4 linked regions of the Homo sapiens genome follow. The protein of the gene in region 1 purifies or fractionates together with the protein of each later gene. This does not show direct contact. Each region holds a gene or a part of one and is shown in the gene's direction. Other genes may lie near its edges.

Region 1 (6,025 bases):
ATTTCAGCATCTGTGTCATGTCCCAGGCTGGCTCTGATGCTCCTTCTGACTGACTTTTTTTTTTCTTTTTTGAGACAGAGTCTCGCTCTGTCACCCAGGCTGGAGTGCAATGGCACGATCTCAGCTCACTACAGCCTCCGCCTCCTGGGTTCAAGCGATTCTCATGCCTCAGCCTCCCAGTAGCTGGGATTATAGGCGCGTGCCACCACGCCTGGCTAATTTTTGTATTTTTAGTAGAGACGAGATTTCACCATGTTGACCAGGCTGGTTTCGAACTCCTGACCTCGGGTGATCCGCCCGCCTCAGCCTCCCAAAGTTCTGGGATTACAGGCGTGAGCCACTGTGCCCGGCTCCTGACTGTGACTTTTCTTATCTTTTTTTCATGCCTTGTTGTTTTTCTGGAAAGCCAATCAGGATGTACTAGATAACAGAAACCGAGGTAAATAGGTATTAGGGTGAGGATTTATGTTACTCTGGCTGGGGCTGGGCTGTGTTTGACATTTTCTGTGGCTGTAGGAGCCCAAACCTCATGGCTGTGGCCCAGGCTCTGTGTCACTTCCACCTCTGTACACTCATCTGGAGCCCTGTGTTGATGTGTGACTATCACCCAGTTCTGAGTCCCAGCTGGGAAGTAGGCGCCATCGTGCCCTCCGATTCCATCCTGGCTCTGCCTATTCCCAGCTGTCTGTGCAGGAAGCCGTTGCAGGCCGCATTTCCCACCCTAGCAGCCCTCTGCTAGGTTCAGCCAATGAAAGCCACAGGTGGGAGTTGGAGGGGAAGTGGCAGGGAGAAGCCGGGGTATTTCTCCTCCTCTGTCTGTGCAGAATCTCTGACAGTGGCTATCTCCAGCTGTGGCCAGACAGGCCTTGTGAGGGTCCAGCTTTGACAAGGTGACCATAGCTCCTTGGCTCCAGTAACATCTGCTCTTCCTGCATCAAGGACCTGGGGACTGTTCCTACTGTTGCTGATCTCAAGGTTACTTCACTGAGCCCTGTATGGCTTCTTAGCCTCTTTGGCTTCAAGTCCCTGCGTTAAATTCCCCGTGTTTCAAATACTCAGAGATGTTTGGCTGTGCGGAGACCCTGACTCTTACACTGCACCTGTTCAGGCCAGAGCCACAGACCTCTGAGTGCTCCAGCCCTGCCGCATCTCATCCACCCCCAGCTCTGCCAGGAGCATGGGCCCAAAGACAGAAACATGATCCCCCAGGACAGTCCAAAGAGACCTGCAGAGGACGGATGTGTGCGTTGGGGCCATGAAGATGGAGTAGGAGCTCACTGGACAGAGAAGATGGGGAAGGACACTCCAGGGAGAAGCAAACGCTGAGGTCCACTTGAGAAAAATGCCTGGGTGGTTTTGGTGCTGTGAGATTCTAGGGTAGGTGAGACAGTGTGTGTGTGTTTGTCTGTGTGGGTGGTTTTGGTGCCATGAGATTCTGGGGTAGGTAAGACAGCGTGTGTGCGTCTGTATGTGTGTGGGGGGGTGGGGCGGGGTTGGGTCTGAATCTCCAGCGGGGGCAGCGGAACAAAGGGCTGGATGCCCATCCCAGGAGGTAGATTCATCAGTGCTCCCTATGCGAGAGTGGAAGTGGGGAGCCCCAGTGGGTCCTGGGCTGCAGGAGAATCCGCTGCCCCAGGAGCAGAGACTGGGAAGAAGCCCACAGTAAGGGCAAAGGGTGGACTGCGGAGACTGCTCCGTCCTCCCTCCCCACCCCTACGCCAGGTTTCACTTCTCCCTGAGAGTCCTGGGGCAACACCCCCTGTTCTTTCCCTCGCACCCCCATTTTTAAAATGTTACGTGGGAGCTTTCGGGGACGGGCTGCGGGCATCCGTTTCCCTAGCCCAGTGGGAGGTGGAACCGAAGCCCAGGAGTCCAGGCCTCTGGCCCTGCGCCTCCCTGGCTAAAGAGCGCCCTGTGGGGAGGAAGCAGGGCCCCAGGCGGAACCGGGAAAACACACCGGGGCTTTAAACAGACCGGGCCACTCCCATCGAATTTGGAAAGCGGTTAAAAGAGGTCGTGCCGCATTCTGCGCCGCGTCCCTCTTCCTTCAGTCCCGCCGAGTGTCCCCGACCAGAGGTGACCTCCTAGAAGGGGAGGTCCCCAAACTCGAGGCCCTGCGTGTAGGGAAGGGGAGCGCCCGCCCCTTCCCTGCCGCCGCGAGCGCCCCGGGAGGGGACCGGGGCTGCCGTCCCTCCGCCTCTTCCCCCGCGGGGCGTAGCGATGGCCCGGGCCAGGGCCGGGGCGCTGCTGGCGCTTTGGGTGCTCGGGGCCGCCGCGCATCCGCAGTGCCTGGACTTCAGGCCGCCCTTCCGGCCGACGCAGCCGCTGCGCCTCTGCGCGCAGTACTCGGACTTCGGCTGCTGCGATGAGGGGCGCGACGCCGAGCTGACCCGCCGCTTCTGGGCCCTGGCGAGCCGCGTGGACGCCGCCGAGTGGGCCGCGTGCGCCGGCTACGCGAGGGACCTGCTGTGCCAGGTGAGCGGGCGCGCGGCCACCGGGCGGGGCGGGGCGCGGGAGGCCGAGTCCTGGAGCAGAGATCGGAACCCCGCGGGGGCGAGGGCCAAGAGTGGGCGGCGGACTCGGGAACTCTAAGCCCCAACAGGGAGTCATTTGGCACGGGGCGGGGAGACCGCGCATCCCAGGACGACTCTTGGCTTTGCCATTCATTAGTTTTGTGACTTGGGCCTTCTCGGGGCCTCAGTTTCCCCTCCTGAAGCAGGAAGGACGGACGGACGGACAGATGATGTCATCATTTCCTCAGAGGTTGGGGGCTCTTCTGCCCCAGTCCCCTGGAGTCGACCCCTCAGCGTCCCACCCCGAGCAGCTGCACCCTTGTCGGGGTACCAAGGTGGAGAGGCATCTGTCCCGGTCAGTGCTCCTTTGTGTTGTCCCCGGGGCAGTGAAAGCAGGGGGCCCTGGCGTGGGCGTGGTCAACGTGTGGCCCGGGTTTGTTGAGGGGGTTGGGGCCACTGTCCCCCACGAGCGTCTCACCCCCATCCTGATGCCCTTGCCACTTCCGCCACCACCTCTGTGGGTGCTGTGCCCTCTCCTGGGGATGGCGCCCTGGCCTGCAGAAGCTCTCTCAAGACTGAGCGACAGCTCTTTGTTGAAGCCCCTGGGCCCCCCATCTTCCCTCTGAGGGTGGAGCCCCTGCTTCTGTGCACACCTGGTGGTGCCACCGCTATTTGTTTTCCTCTTGTGGGAGTCTGAGGCCCCAGGGCCTGACCACACCCAAGTGGGCAAATGTTGCCTGGCTGAATGCAGAAATGGAGCAGGACGGGCAGCCCCAAGGCATTCCTGCCTCAGCATCTGGGCAGTGAGAGGCCTGGGGTGGAGAGGCCCCAGGGGCCAGGGCCGTGTCCCAGCCTTCGGCCAGCAGGGGCAGGTGGTGTGGGGAAGGGCAAGAAGGCTGACTTGGAGTTGGAGTTTGATCCTGGCTCTGTCACTTCCCCAGCTTCGTGACCTGGGCAGGTCACTGCTGCACCTCACAATATCTTTAAAATGAAGCTGAGTATGGTGGCTTATGCCTGTAATCCCAGCACTTTGGGAGGCCAAGGTGGGCAGATCACTTGAGGTCAGGAGTTCGAGACCAGCCTGGCCAACATGGCGAAACTCCATCTCTACAAAAATACAAAAATTAACTGGGCATGTTGGGGAGCTCCTGTAATCCCAGCTACTCGGGAGGCTGAGGCAGGAGAAGCACTTGACTCTGGGAGGCAGAGGTTGCAGTGAGCCAAGATTGAGCCACTGCACCCCAGCCTGGGCAACAGAGCAAGACTCCGTCTCAAAAATATAATATAATATAATATGATATGATATGATATGATATGATATGATATGATATGATATAATATAATATAATATAATATAATATGATATAATATGATACATAAAATAAATAAAATAAAACCTTAACCACCCCCCTGGGTGGCCATGCAGATTAAATGCCACATACTAGGGGCTCGGTAAGTGTTTGCAGTTGGATTTCTCGAGGGCTTCCTTGGCCCTCACTGGCTGCCCAGCCCTGGGAAGGGTCCAGGTGAGGCTTGGAGCCCGAATCAAGGAAGACTCAGAGGCAGGCAGGGACTTGCCCAGTGGTCGCACAGCCCAGCGGTGGTTGAGGTGGGGACATGGACCACACTCGCTGAAGCGAGCTCATATCTTAGGTGGGAAGCAGTAGACTCTGGGAGGATGAGGAGGGGGCCCTGGGGAGCTCCAGAATGCAACAGAGGGTGGGCTGGCCACCTTTAGGTGGGCTCTGCTGGACTCCCATGCTGTACACCTCAAGGGCACGGGAATGGTCTGGCCAAGCGTCTGCCTCCCTCACCAGCCTGGGGGCTCCTCAGGACCAGGTCCTTTGGTCTCCCTACCCCCATCACATAGCAGAGTTCCTGCATCCATGCCACATTTGTCTATTGAGCACTTGCTATGTGCCAGGCTCAGCACGGCAGTGAGGTGGGCAGGTGGATGGAGGAAGGGAAGGGTCAGTCCTGATGCTGTCCCCTGGCAGGTTTCTTGGGAAACTTCCCAGGACAGCCTGGCTTTAAGCAACCAGCAGTTAGCAGGAGTGACCACTAACACTTCAGCCCAGGCGTCTCTGAGAGTGACCTCATGTCTGGAGTGAGCTTAGAGACGGCGGCTGAGGCTGGGTTATGGTTTCACTGACGGGGCCTCCTGGAGCATGCTGGCGGGAGGACCATGCTCTCTGCTAGCCAAGGCAGAGTCTGCATTTGGCACCTCCTGATTTCCACACGGGGAGGTGGTGGAGGTGCCTTATTCATAGGTCTCTGTCAGTGTGGAGGCACTCAGGCCTTCACACCTGCTTTGGGGGGATGGGAGACTCTTTCCTGAGGCTTTGCTTGTCCAGTAAGTGCCTGTGTCCTCTGGAGGAGAGAGGACAGCCATGGCACGTGGCATCCCCAGTGCATCTGGTGTGAGCTTCCACATCGCTAACCTCCCCTGTGACTGGGGTTGCCTCTCTAAGCCACTAAAATCATCAAAGCATGGTTTCTGATGGAGATCTCCATGAAATGTATTCTATGGGCTCATGTATTCAGCAGGCTCTTCCTGAGCCTGTTAGGAGGCAGCCCTGTGCTGGATGCTGGGCCCAAAAACAGTTGGCAAGTCACAGGCCCAGTCTCAAAAATCCCCTTCATCACTTCAGGAGACTGACACACACAGGAAGGTGCCAGAAATTCCTCAAGGAGTGTAGGAACAAGGCCACATACCTCAGGGAAGGCTTCCTGAATGTTGGTTGCATGTTGATAGCTCATTATTTACTGAACAAACACATACATCTTCTCCATTTGTTCCTCCCAACAACTCTATGAGGTTGGAATTCCTTTCCCCTTCCACAGATGAGGACATAGGCACAGAGAGGTTAAGGAGCTTGCCCACGGTTAAGAGCAGTAAGAGGTTAAGGAGCATTCCCCATGGGGAATGTGTGCGCTGGCTCCAAAGCCATTCTCCTAACCGCTTTGCCACACTGCCTCCCTCCTTGAAGCCCCACTGTGTCCCACAGTCCGTGGAGTGGACAGACATGCAAAGAGATAATGAAGTCCTAGCCAAGCTGACTGGCTGGAGCGCCCCTGGCGACGGAGCAGTGACTGCTGTAGAGAACTCACCCTGTAAGCTACAAGATTCAATGGAGTGAGTGTCGTGTCTGAGATATGGACAGAGTGCATTGGGAGCATCCATAAGGGCCAGGGATGGGACAGTCAGAGCCCTGGGAGCATGGAGGACAAGAGGAGACCTTTGAGTAGGCCTTGAGTCATGAATAGCAGTTTGCCAGATGAGGAAGTAGGTGAGAAGCAAATATCCGATGGACAGGACACTGTGCAAAGGCTTGCTCTTTCAAAAAATGAACGGTGGACATAAGAAACCTTCAGGACCCAGGGCCATGAGTCACGAGTGTCAGTGACATGGGGGTGGCAAACTCTGGGCAAGATGGGGGCCCTCCGCCCTGCACTGAATGGCCCGGGCGGCTGAAGCCTGCGATACTGGGCTGGTTTCCTATGGCCTTCCT
Region 2 (3,864 bases), on another chromosome or scaffold:
CATAATCCGTTTCTCATATTTCTTTGTTTCATGGAATGACCTCTTTATTTTTGTTTCAGTTCGAGATAAGTTGCGGGAGATAGTAGGAGCATCCACAAACTGGAGGTATGCATCTTTGTTTTCATTCATTCTTTTCATCCCCAAGGTATTATACTACACTGTATTTAGGCTCAGTTGATGGTCTCACAGTGGGGATGGGGAGCCCTATGTTCAGAGATAGGTTGAGAAGTATTTTGCTTGGGGGAGAAGGTCAACATTTCAACATACTCATCAGATGACACCTCATTGTCATGAAAGAAGATGATTTACGTATATTCTGCATTTTCAAAGTGCATTTAGGTGTATATTACTTCACTGATTCTCATAACAAAACTTGTGACGTGCTTACGACATATGTTCCTGTTCCTTTTTTTACACATGAAACTGAAACTCAGAGATTGAATGATTAAATGTCAGGGTTTGGGACTTGAACCCAAGTCGCTAAGTTTCTCTGTTTCATGCAACTTGACTCCTTTATTGCTTCTTGTCAGTTCAAAATTAGTCAGGCCTCCCATATTGTCTTTCTCTTTCTCGCAGTATTTCCTTGTTGTAAAGTAGGATCATATCCCTCTTGGTGTACATAATTTTGAGGCTAAAATGAGATAGAAAAAACACGAGTGATCACTAGATATATAATAATCTATTGTTGGTATAGAAATTATCTAATGACTTATTTTTAAATTCTTTATATGAAAAATTTCACTTTACTAAAAGGTAGAAAGAATGAATACCTGTGTACCCACCACCTGGATTCCATACTTATTAATATTTTGCCAAATTTTCCAATATACACATATTGCCTGAACCATTTCTAAGTAAATTATAGACACCATGACACTTCAGCGTGCATCTTCAGTAAACATTTTATAAAACCAGCCTTCGCTTATCTCCAACAAATAAGACATTCTCTCATGTAATCAAATTGACAGCAATTCCTTGCTAGTATATTACTCATCCATAGTCACATTTCCTCAACTGTTACCATTTTGTGTAATAGATTACTCCTTTTAACAAAAATGTTTTTATAGCTGTTTAAAAAACATCAAGATCCAATAAAGGATTGCATGTTGCATCTGGTGGTTATGACTCTTTAGTCTTCCCTAATCTAGAGTAATGGACAGTCGTCCTTCCCCTATTCTTCCCCCATGAGCTTGACTTTAAGGAGGCCAAGCCATTTGTCTTGAGAATGTTCCACATTCTGGATTTACTGGTGTCATTTAACTCATTCCTCTATCTCCTGTAGTTTTTGTAGGGTAAACATTTCTGGAAATAATACTTTATAAGTTAAGCTTAGAAAGACATCTTAGCTAATGTTCTTATCAACATTGTCGTTCCGTATCCCCTTGTCTTTCTTTTCTCTTTCACCTTAATCTTCTCTTCTTTTTCTTCCCTTTCTGTCTCCTTTTCATGTTATGTTCTTCTTTACCTTTTGTTCTGCCTTCCATACTTCCTTTGGATATAGTCCATTTTCCCTCCTCTGTCTCTCTTTCCTGAAATTGAAGGCAGAGAGAGAGAGAGAACTGGGGCTCAAAGAATCCGAGAACTGTCAGGTGAGAAATGGGAATATAAAGTAGAGTGGCCAAGCCATTCTTTAGCATATATATTTATATGTATATATATATACTATTTTGTCCATCTCTCTAAATTTTTAATTTAATTTCAAATATTCTGGTCTTTGAGTAAACTTTTTGATAAGGGTGAATATATGGCTCATTTGGGTATATCTATATCAGTTTTAAGTTTTCTTTTTTTTTTTTTTTTTTGAGACAGTCTTGCTCTGTTGCCCAGGCTGGAGTGCAGTGGTGTGATCTTGGCTCATTGCAACCTCCGCCTCCCACGTTCAAGCAATTCTCCTGCCTCAGCCTACCAAGTAGCTGGGATTACAGGTGCCCACCACCACACCTGGCTAATTTTTTGTATTTTTAGTAGAGACGGAGTTTTGCCATGTTGGCCAGGCTGGTCTTGAACCCCTGACCTCGTGTGATCCACCCGCCTTGGCCTCCCAAAATGCTGGGATTACAGGCGTGAGACACTGCACCTGGCCTTAAGAATGTTTTTAAGCTTGAGAAATGATACCGGAAATGATCAATTTCACCAAGTGGCAGGTGGGAAGGGAGGGAAGGAAGAGAAGGTGAAAGTAGGCCCAGACCTTCTTTTTCCTCCTTTGATGGTATCTTACTGGCCTGTGTACCACTGGAATTGTGGGCTAGAACTGCTCTTGTTTTATGAATCCTGCATCCTTTCTTCTCAGAGACCATGTGAAGGCAATGGAAGAAAGGAAATTACTTCATAGTTTCTTGGCTAAATCACAGGATGGACTGCCTCCTAGGAGAATGAAGGACAGTTATATTGAAGTTCTCTTGCCTTTGGGCAGTGAGCCTGAATTACGAGAGAAATATTTGACTGTTCAAAACACCGTAAGGTAACACAGTGCTATTTTTATGTATTTGTTTTTATTTCCTTGTTTTATAACAATTTTGAAATATAATTCACACACCATACAATTCGCCTGTTTAAAGTGTACAGTTCCATGGTTTTGATATATTTAGAGAGTTGTGCATCCATCACCACAGTCAATTTTAGAACATTTTCATCACCCTGAAGTGTGTTATTTATTTTTAAAGGGAGACCAACATGATTTGCATTTAATTCACTGTTTGCTTTATTTCACAGATTTGGCAGGATTCTTGAGGATCTTGACAGCTTGGGAGGTACTGGTATTATTTTAGTCTTTCTAATAGATACCTACAGATATACATTGAATTCTGTGACTGGAAAGGGCTCTTTTATTCTTTAACCTGCACAGATGATGATATTCTAAAGTGCACAAAAAAAGAAGGACATCGGCCGGGCGTGGTGGCTCATGCCTGTAATCCCAGCACTTTGGGAGGCTGAGGCGGGCGGATCACTTGAGGTTGGGAGTTTGAGACCAGCCTGACCAACATGGAGAAACCCCGTCTCTACTAAAAATACAAAATTAGCCAGTTGTGTTGGTGGGCGCCGTAATCCCAGCTACTTGGGAGGCTGAGGCAAGAGAATCACTTGAACCTGGGAGGCAGAGGTTGCGGTGAGCTGAGATCGTGCCATTGCACTACAGCCTGGGTAACAAGAGTGAAACTCCATCTCCAAAAAAAAAAAAAAAAAATGGCATCTACTACTTCTGAATTGTCATAATTTTTTTCTTATAAATGTAGATTCCTATTTAATGGAGGTATAGTCTGAATAATCTTTCTTACTAGTAACTTTAAAAAAAGAAAGTCTTAAACTTACAGAAAAGTTGCAAATACAGTATAAAGAATTTTTCTGTGGCCAGGCGCGGTGGCTCACGCCTATAATCCCAGCACTTTGGGAGGCTGAGGCAGGCAGATCACAAGGTCAGGAGATCGAGACCATCCTGGCTAACATGGTGAAACCCCATCTCTACTAAAAATACAAAAAATTAGCCAGGCGTGGTGGCATACGCCTGTAGTCCCAGCTATTCAGGAGGCTGAGGCAGGAGAATCACTTGAACCTGGGAGGTGGAGGTTGCATTGAGCCGAGATCGCGCCACTGCACTCCAGCCTGGGCGACAGAGTGAGACTCCGTCTCAAAAATAAAAAAGAAAAAAATTTTTTGTCCCTGAATTATGTGAGAATAAGTGGCTGACATGATGCCACATCACCCCCAAATATTTGAATATGTCTTTCCTACAAACAAGGACATTCTTCTACATAACTACAAAACAACCATAAAAAATCAGGAAATTAACACTGATGTGTCATACTGTCTAATCCTCAGGTCCCATTCAACTTTTGCCAGTGGTCCTTCATAGCAGAAGGATCCAGT
Region 3 (3,864 bases), on another chromosome or scaffold:
CTTTGACCTTGAAATCCCAAGAGTCACTCGAACAATGTGTGTGTACACTTGTGTGCCCATGTGTGCGTGCACACGCATGCTGGAAGTAGAGGCCAGGCCTCTAGAAAAGCAACCTGTGGCAGGGTTGACAGACATGTTCTCTGTGCCTAGTGAGTGAGTGAGCCCTGAGGCCCCTCATCTACCAGTGCAGAGTTTCCTTAAAGCCAAGACTGACTGTGCAGTATTACTTACATAGCACATTAGTGGCCTTGGAAATTTCTAAACTTTTAACATTTTTAACAGCTTTTCATGTGATTCATGTATAACAAAGAGGATCAGGAAAGGAAAATAATGTATTTTATTGTGCTCTTATTACTTTTTTAAGTGATTGTAATATGTGAGGCTCTATTTGGAGAATGTCCCTTATCCCCTGGCCAGCAATATAGGACTCACAGGAAAGAAGGCTGGTTAGCCCACAAAGAGTCTTGCCTCCTCTAGCCAGAGTGCAGGGCTCTGCTCCTAGGAATGGCCATGGAGTGGGCATGCTGCTGCAGGCCAGCAGTCTGCTCTTGGTGTCCTGTGGCATGGCCGCGCCTTGCCTTGAAGGTTGGTGTTTGGTTCATCTTAGCATAGAACATGTGCACATAACTCCTTGCCTGATTATGCACTGAAGGGCAGCACACAGACCACTGACCATGTCAGCCAGCACATTCCCTTAACCTCCCCCACCTCCCATCTTGCAATGTCTTGCATATTGAGATATACCTTCTCAATGTCATGTTCGTGGTGCCTTGCCCATGTAAATTTCAATGTTGACTATTTAATGAGGTTACATATTTAATGCTGAATGTTTCCTGGTCCCTCTATTTGTTATGTCTCTACTTATCTTTTTTTTTCTTTCTCTTTTTCTGTTATGATTTGGATCCAGTCTTCACTTTAACTCTATGGTATAATAAGCATGGACACCTCCACTACCATTATCTTACAGCACTGGTAAACCAAGCACCTCTTCATATCAGATGTTTTTAGTACTGTTTTTATATTCAGATTTGTTAAGGGCAAAAGATGAATGCAAACTAGCCAGAGAAAAGCCTCAGGCTTCCCAGAGACAGGTGGCTAGATTAATTTTTCTCTGGGTGATGGCCAAAGAATGTGAGATAGAGAGGGAAGGGGGTGTTACAGGTTAGAGCAGAATAGAGAAAGAAACTATATTTCTAGGCAAAAAGTACTACATGAGTTGGTCTTCAGAATATTTTTCCAAAAAAATGAAATTCAGTCAGTTTAACATTATCACAAATATTTTTCATTTTAATTGTGGTAGGACCTTTGAATTTGTTCATCAACTGGAAAGAAATCCTACCCTCTGTAGACACATACACACACATTTATATATCTATGTGTTTGAATTGTGACTAGTATAGCACTTTACATTTTCTCAAGTAACAGGAAGTTATTGCCTTCAATATTGATTGGAAATTGTTTTCTATTGAAGTCTATACTGTAGAGTTTTCCATTTATATTGAGAGTTTGAACAATTAAGCTCCTATTGGAACTTTTCCTTAAGCCACATGAGCATGAACAATCTCTGTGACACTTGGGTGCTAGAGAAACACAACAGTGGCTAAAGTAGCCAAGAGCAAGACTGAATGTATAGCAGAGTGCCTTGTTAGAGTGGTAACCTAGTCTTGGAAGCAATTCAGTGGATGTTTCATAAAGAGGACTAGAACTTCAAGAAGCCTCCTGTGCTGGCTGAGGTGAGCCCTTTTGGTATATGTACACTACTGGGTTGCCTAGAAGCCAATTCATGAAGAATAACAGCAGGATGAGAAAAAGAGTCACTGTAACCTGTGGAACAACAACGTAAGAATCACCAACCCCTAGGCTGAGCTAGAACTGGAAGCCAGGAATATGGCAATGAGTTTCAAGATTTGCCCTCAGAAGATGAACTGGGTGAGGTATGGGTTGAGGTGAGGGCACAAGCACTCATCCTACCTACCCTGCTGCTGTTGAGGAGCTAGAAGTAAAACATATTGGTTAGGATTTTAACAGTTGGAGTAGCCTCCCATTATCAGATTAAGTGGGGGTCACTTTTGCTTCCAAACTCAGAATAAGTTTGTAAACATGGGAAAGTCTAAGCCAAGAGATCTAAAGCTCTAGAAATATTAATGACATTTCTGGGAGTAAAACTACTAAAAATTATATCTTAAAAGTTTCTAGTAGTATGAAGTTCCCAGGCCAGGCGCAGTGGCTCACGCCTGTAATCCCAACACTTTAGGAGGGCGAGGTGGGCAGATCACCTGAGGTCAGGAGTTTGAGACCAGCCTGGCCAACATGGTGAAACTCCATCTCTACTAAAAATACAAAAATTAGCCGGGCATGATGGCAGGCACCTGTAATCTAAGCTACTCGGGAGGCTGAGGCAAGAGAATCTCTTGAACCCAGGAGGCAAAGGTTGCAGTGAGCCAAGATCACGCCATCGCACTCCAGCCTGGGAGATTGAGCAACTTCGTCTCAAAAAAAAGTTTCCAGGAAAGATCTTTGGGTCCTACTAAGCGTCTCAATTTTGAGTTATGAATACTTTGGTTCAGGGAAGTAACCTGACATTTGGTTTTGCTGGAATTAGGGTTTTCGCTAGATTTGACTGCAATTAGGATTTCTTCTAGATTTTACCAGCAGTGATCTGAAAAAGTACAGGCTAGTCACAGAAATAGAGATGGATTTAGGATACTACACTATATTTCAAATGATTCTAGATGTGTAAATATAGTATGAACATTCTTGGAGAGGGGTGAGACAAACTGGACTTGCTGGGCCAACCCTGGCATGTTTTTCATTCTCCTCACTAGTTGACAAGGATTGAAAATTCCGCTCCAGCCTAATGAGTGAACAGGATGGCTGCCCACAAAACCAAGTTATTAGCTTTATGTCATCGAAGCTCATATTCTCAAAGGCCCAAAGTGCTGTGCCGAGACAAATCCAAGTGCTGCTCTTGCTGAAGTGCGCACTGAAGTCCAGCTGTCCGTGCTTACAGCAGTGCCAAAAGTGGGGATTCCATGGACCAAAAACGGTGCCATAAGGGAAGCCAGAAGAGTTGCAGTGCAAGATCCTGGGAGAGATTATACCAAAGAAATCAAGCCTTTTTATCCTGATGCTTCTAAGATGATGAGGGTGAGCTGTGACAGATGCTGTGGGAGGGGAGTTCACATACATTCCATGTCAAGGCATTTAGCTGATAAATCCATCCTCAGAAAAGCACCTTTTTAAAAAGAAGTCCATTTTGTATATTAGAAGATGATGATGATGATGAAGATGAAGAAAGCCCTGGCAGATACAAAGTTCCTCAGTATTTAAGGAGAAGGATCTCTTCCATGTCCCCTTGACATGACTGTGGCTATTGCCCAAACCTCAGCTTGAGAACATCATATAATACTGAGAGCGGAAGATTTTTTTAAAGAGATATGGTAGTTTAAATAGGTTTGTTTAAAGAACTCTTGGGAAATTTCTTAACAAATTGTAATTGTTTTTATAAACCTTCCTACAGAGTTGTGTACCATTCATCATCACCATCATTTAATATCTGTAAGTGCCCAGAAGGTACAAGGTGCTATACAGCCGTTAAACACCCCCTCCCTGCAACTGTTTAAAATTAGAATAGATTTTTGCATCAACCACTGCTAGAAGCTTTCCCCACCTAGGTGGGCTGCAAGGGCCTGCATTCCCAACATCCCATTACATGTTTCCCACTCCAGAAAGTCTCTGGGTTTATTCCAGCTTTTTATCTTGACGTGTCCCATTCACCCCCATGGTTTGGTTTGGTTTGGTTTTGTTTTTTAAATCAAGAAAGTTTCAGGGAATCAAAAGAGGTCGGACATTTTTTAACCTAGC
Region 4 (3,864 bases), on another chromosome or scaffold:
CAGTTGATTGCCAGTCTTATGCCATCTGTACTATACCCACCTACTCCCAGATTATTTTGAAGCAAATTTCAGATATCACATTATTTCATCTATTCAATTGGGTATCTATTCAGTAAATATTTCCATGTATTTCTCTAAGAGAGTTTTACAAAAACCATAATCACAATGCCATTATCATACCTAAAACATTAACAAAAATTCCTTAATATCATAAAATATCCAGTCAGTATACATGTTTCATATTTCCTTAATTGTCTTCTGGTTGTTGTTTTGCAGGTTAAATTTGGATCCAAATAAGTTTCTTACATTATGATTGATTGATAGGTCTCTTGCATATCTATAGATTTTCTCCATGTTTCTTTTTTTCCTTGAATGATCTCTCTTTGCAATCTTGTGTTGAAGAGAATGAGTCATTTGTTATGGAGTTCCCCACAGTCTGGATTTTGCTAATTGCATTCCTCAGGTGCCATTTAATATGTTTCTCTGTTTCTTGTATGTCCTGTATATTGGTTGTTAGATCTAGAGTCTTGACTGGATTCAGAGTCAGTTTTTTTCCACAGCCCATTTCATAGACTGTGTGTGAACTTCCACCAGGAGGTTCATAATGTCTGGTTATCTGGTACATTCACTTTTAAAAGCTTTCGATGCTGTAGTTTGCAAATCATTTTAACTATTGAGAACTTGATACTCAAGCACAAAGCTGTTTTATCTGGAGTGGGTATGAAAGGCCAGAGCCCCATGTCCCTAAGCTACCCCATCACAAGTCTTCTGGCTCCTGGTATCCCTTAGGAAACCTTACGGGAATGCCAAGTTGCTGGAAGAACTTAGTTTGAAAACTACTGGTTTAAGCAATGTTTGAAGCAGTATTAAACTTACAAACTGAAAGTTACTAGCAGAGACCAATAGCTTTTAATAATATAATTGGGATTTTAGGGAAGGTAATTCTTTAGTCCCTGGGACAAAAGACTTCGTCTTTAATTTCACAGTCCCGAAGTCTAAGATGTCAACTATTAATATAGAGCTCCTGCTTTTTGAGTATTTTTAGGATTTTTTTTCCAAAGATGGAAATAACTTTTCTCCCTAATTAGAAATGTAATAAATGCCCATAATGAAAGTAAATATTTAGACCTACACTGCTTCACCTCAGTACTACTGAGATTTTGTGCCAGATAGTTCTTTGTTGTGGAGGCTGTTCTATGCATTGTAGGATGTTTAGCAGCACCCCTGGCCTCTACCCACCAAATGACAGTAGCACCCCTACCCCATTTTGACTAGAAATGTCTCCTGATATTGCCAAATGTCCCCTGGTGAGCAAAATTCCCCCTATTCCCCTATTTGAGAAACTTTAGTTTAGACAGATCAGAAAAGTATAAAAAACAAAGTAAAAACTACCCAGTTTACAGGTTTCAGTCCATAAGATACAGAAGAGAACATGCAAGACTAGAAATGGAGCTAAAAGCCATGTACAAATAACTGGCATAAAACCTTGGATTTTAAAGCATGAAATGGGAATACATGAGTCACTTGAATGGTCTATTATGAGTATATAGACCTTATAGAAGGTAATGGAGACAGCAATCAGTTTAGGTAACTCCTGCGTAAGATGGGACATAGCAAGATTAAACTGTGTGATCATAAGCTGCCCCTCTTTGAGATGTGCAGCTTGCCTGAGTTGGCCTTTCTTTGTGTGCCTTCTGTGTGTAGTGATAGGTACATTGCAGGCTGTCAGAATAAACAGGTGTGGCAGAGGATTGTTGGACAAACCTTGTACATGTATAGTTGCTGAAAAGCCAGAAGTTATTTATAACTTCATTCACCTTGTGGAAGTAAAGGAAAAGCTTTTTCTTATCTTTTATAGATATTTATTTCTCAGAATTAAATTCTTTATATTATGCCTAGAAAAATGTAAAAATTCTACTGAATTTTTTCAAATTGTTCAAAATTCTATTGAAGCTTTTTAACTTTGGGGAAACCAAAAGAAATGCTCTTTTGGATTTTAGTCATTCAGGGTCATGTAACTAAAAATGCAAGTTCTTTTTTTTTTTTTTCCGTTTTAAGTGGAGTTTATTTAACACTAAGAGATAAAGGGTTGTTAACAAACACAATGACAAATGGACATCTGATTGGGATGAGGCATTATCCTGTACACATAATGTTGATATTTTTGTGTACCCTCAGTGCATGGCATTTACACATAGAGCCACTACTGCACAGCACAAGAGTATCTGAAGAGGCTGAATCAGAGTAAGGCTGTTTAAAAGACTGAAATTTTTTAGTATATATATTCTGCATGAAAACAGAACTTTTGAACTGGCAGGTAGAAGGCAACTCTGCCAAACACTACAGTTAAAGCCCCCACTTTAGTGCACAGTTCCACCCCTTCCATCTGCATGCGTGACACATTAACAGTATTTAAAGGTAAACGAGGCACTTTGTGGCAACTGCAGCCATCGTTATGAACATATTGCACAAAATTTCTAGAACTAAACATTTAACTTGTACCCTACTTTTATAAAATTGCAAGTTTTGTGTAGTACCTTAACTTTATTATGAAGTAGTATATCAGATAATACTTTAAGGTTATTTGTTGGCCCTTTGTGGAAGGTGGACCTTACAGTTAATGGCAGGCAGATTGGTATGAAGGAGTAGGGTTGGGTGTGGGATCTGGAGGCAGGATTAAAATGAGTTTGTAATGGGAGAAATGGTGTCTACCTTATTATCTTTGCCTTGGGCTGTACTAATCTCAGACGGTGTATTTCATGATAGAAAGTTAACAAAGAAATTTAAAAATAAACCTCTGTTAGAATGTGTACTCTTTTTAGCGTAAGACCTCTTTAATGTTATTCACACATTTGACACCAAAGTAGTTTTACCTGAACTCCTGATACAAATGGGAGCATCAGGGTTTAACCTGGCCTGGTCACTGTTCTCTTCAGAATTCCCTCCTTGCTGTGTCCTACAGATTGACTACTTCAACAATCAGATCATTGTTGACCTCGTGGAGCAACAGCACAAAGGGATCATTGCAATCCTTGATGATGCTTGCATGAATGTCGGCAAAGTCACCGATGAAATGTTTCTTGAAGCACTTAACAGTAAATTGGGCAAACACGCCCATTTTTCCAGCCGAAAGGTAATGTGTTTAATGACACCTTCTTCCTTTTATCTGTGAGGTTCTCCTTATTGTTTGATGGAGTTCAACGACTTTATATGTTGGGATAAAAGAATGTCCCCTTTAATAAGAAAGAAAAGTCATAAACATTCATTAAATGATTTGTTGCTGTGGATAAATTCTGCCTCTCTGGTTTATAGTATGAAGAAATTGATAAAATCATGTTAATCCAGGAGAGGGAGCTCCAGACTATGCAATTTGGTAGAAACAGGAAAAATGAGCATGATTCTTTAGAAAGCATGATGTCATTTGTAACCAATAGATGTAGAGTCCTTGCTCATGTGCTAGAATTTTACTCCTGCATCTGATAATTCTGGCATGGAAAATAGCTTTTGTCCTTGACTTTTTACTGTAATCCTCAGTAACAAAATGTGTTGTGCACTCTGCTGTACTTCTTCAGATCATATGACTTCCTTGAAAACAGAGAGATTCTAGTTGTAATTCTAGTTATTACAGAGAAACTTATTCATTAAATAAATGGGTATCCTTTTAACTCTCCATTTTTCAGGATCTAAAAAAGTGATAAACAGATCACATATCTGTAGTAATTGGTGACAATTGTGCTTATCAGACCTTTGTGCTGATATGGACATATCATTTGCATGGAATATTCCATTTGCATGGAATATGTTTGCTATTAATATTTGTTCAAGAAATTTGTGTTAGAAGAGGAACACATCATCATCGCCCCT

Evidence for each region. The genes of interacting proteins can lie anywhere in the genome.
Region 2: the proteins of HHIPL1 (region 1) and ACOT9 purify together in Homo sapiens (affinity purification with mass spectrometry; one large-scale study listed by BioGRID and IntAct). This does not show direct contact.
Region 3: the proteins of HHIPL1 (region 1) and PEAK1 purify together in Homo sapiens (co-immunoprecipitation; one large-scale study listed by IntAct). This does not show direct contact.
Region 4: the proteins of HHIPL1 (region 1) and MYO1D purify together in Homo sapiens (affinity purification with mass spectrometry; one large-scale study listed by BioGRID and IntAct). This does not show direct contact.

The regions. Positions count from the first base shown.
Region 1 is NC_000014.9:99,642,988-99,649,012, forward strand, and holds the start of HHIPL1 (HHIP-like protein 1 isoform a precursor), read left to right. Parts: upstream 1-2,141; 5' UTR 2,142-2,220; coding exon 2,221-2,475; intron 2,476-2,701; exon of another isoform or gene 2,702-2,868; intron 2,869-6,025.
Region 2 is NC_000023.11:23,729,413-23,733,276, reverse strand, and holds part of ACOT9 (acyl-coenzyme A thioesterase 9, mitochondrial isoform a precursor), read left to right. Parts: intron 1-59; coding exon 60-105; intron 106-2,290; coding exon 2,291-2,461; intron 2,462-2,712; coding exon 2,713-2,750; intron 2,751-3,864. UniProt on the Homo sapiens protein: Mitochondrial acyl-CoA thioesterase. Catalyzes the hydrolysis of acyl-CoAs into free fatty acids and coenzyme A (CoA), regulating their respective intracellular levels. Regulates both mitochondrial lipid and amino acid metabolism.
Region 3 is NC_000015.10:77,108,741-77,112,604, reverse strand, and holds part of PEAK1 (inactive tyrosine-protein kinase PEAK1), read left to right. Parts: 3' UTR 1-3,864. UniProt on the Homo sapiens protein: Probable catalytically inactive kinase. Scaffolding protein that regulates the cytoskeleton to control cell spreading and migration by modulating focal adhesion dynamics. Acts as a scaffold for mediating EGFR signaling.
Region 4 is NC_000017.11:32,754,761-32,758,624, reverse strand, and holds part of MYO1D (unconventional myosin-Id), read left to right. Parts: intron 1-2,962; coding exon 2,963-3,133; intron 3,134-3,864. UniProt on the Homo sapiens protein: Unconventional myosin that functions as actin-based motor protein with ATPase activity. Plays a role in endosomal protein trafficking, and especially in the transfer of cargo proteins from early to recycling endosomes.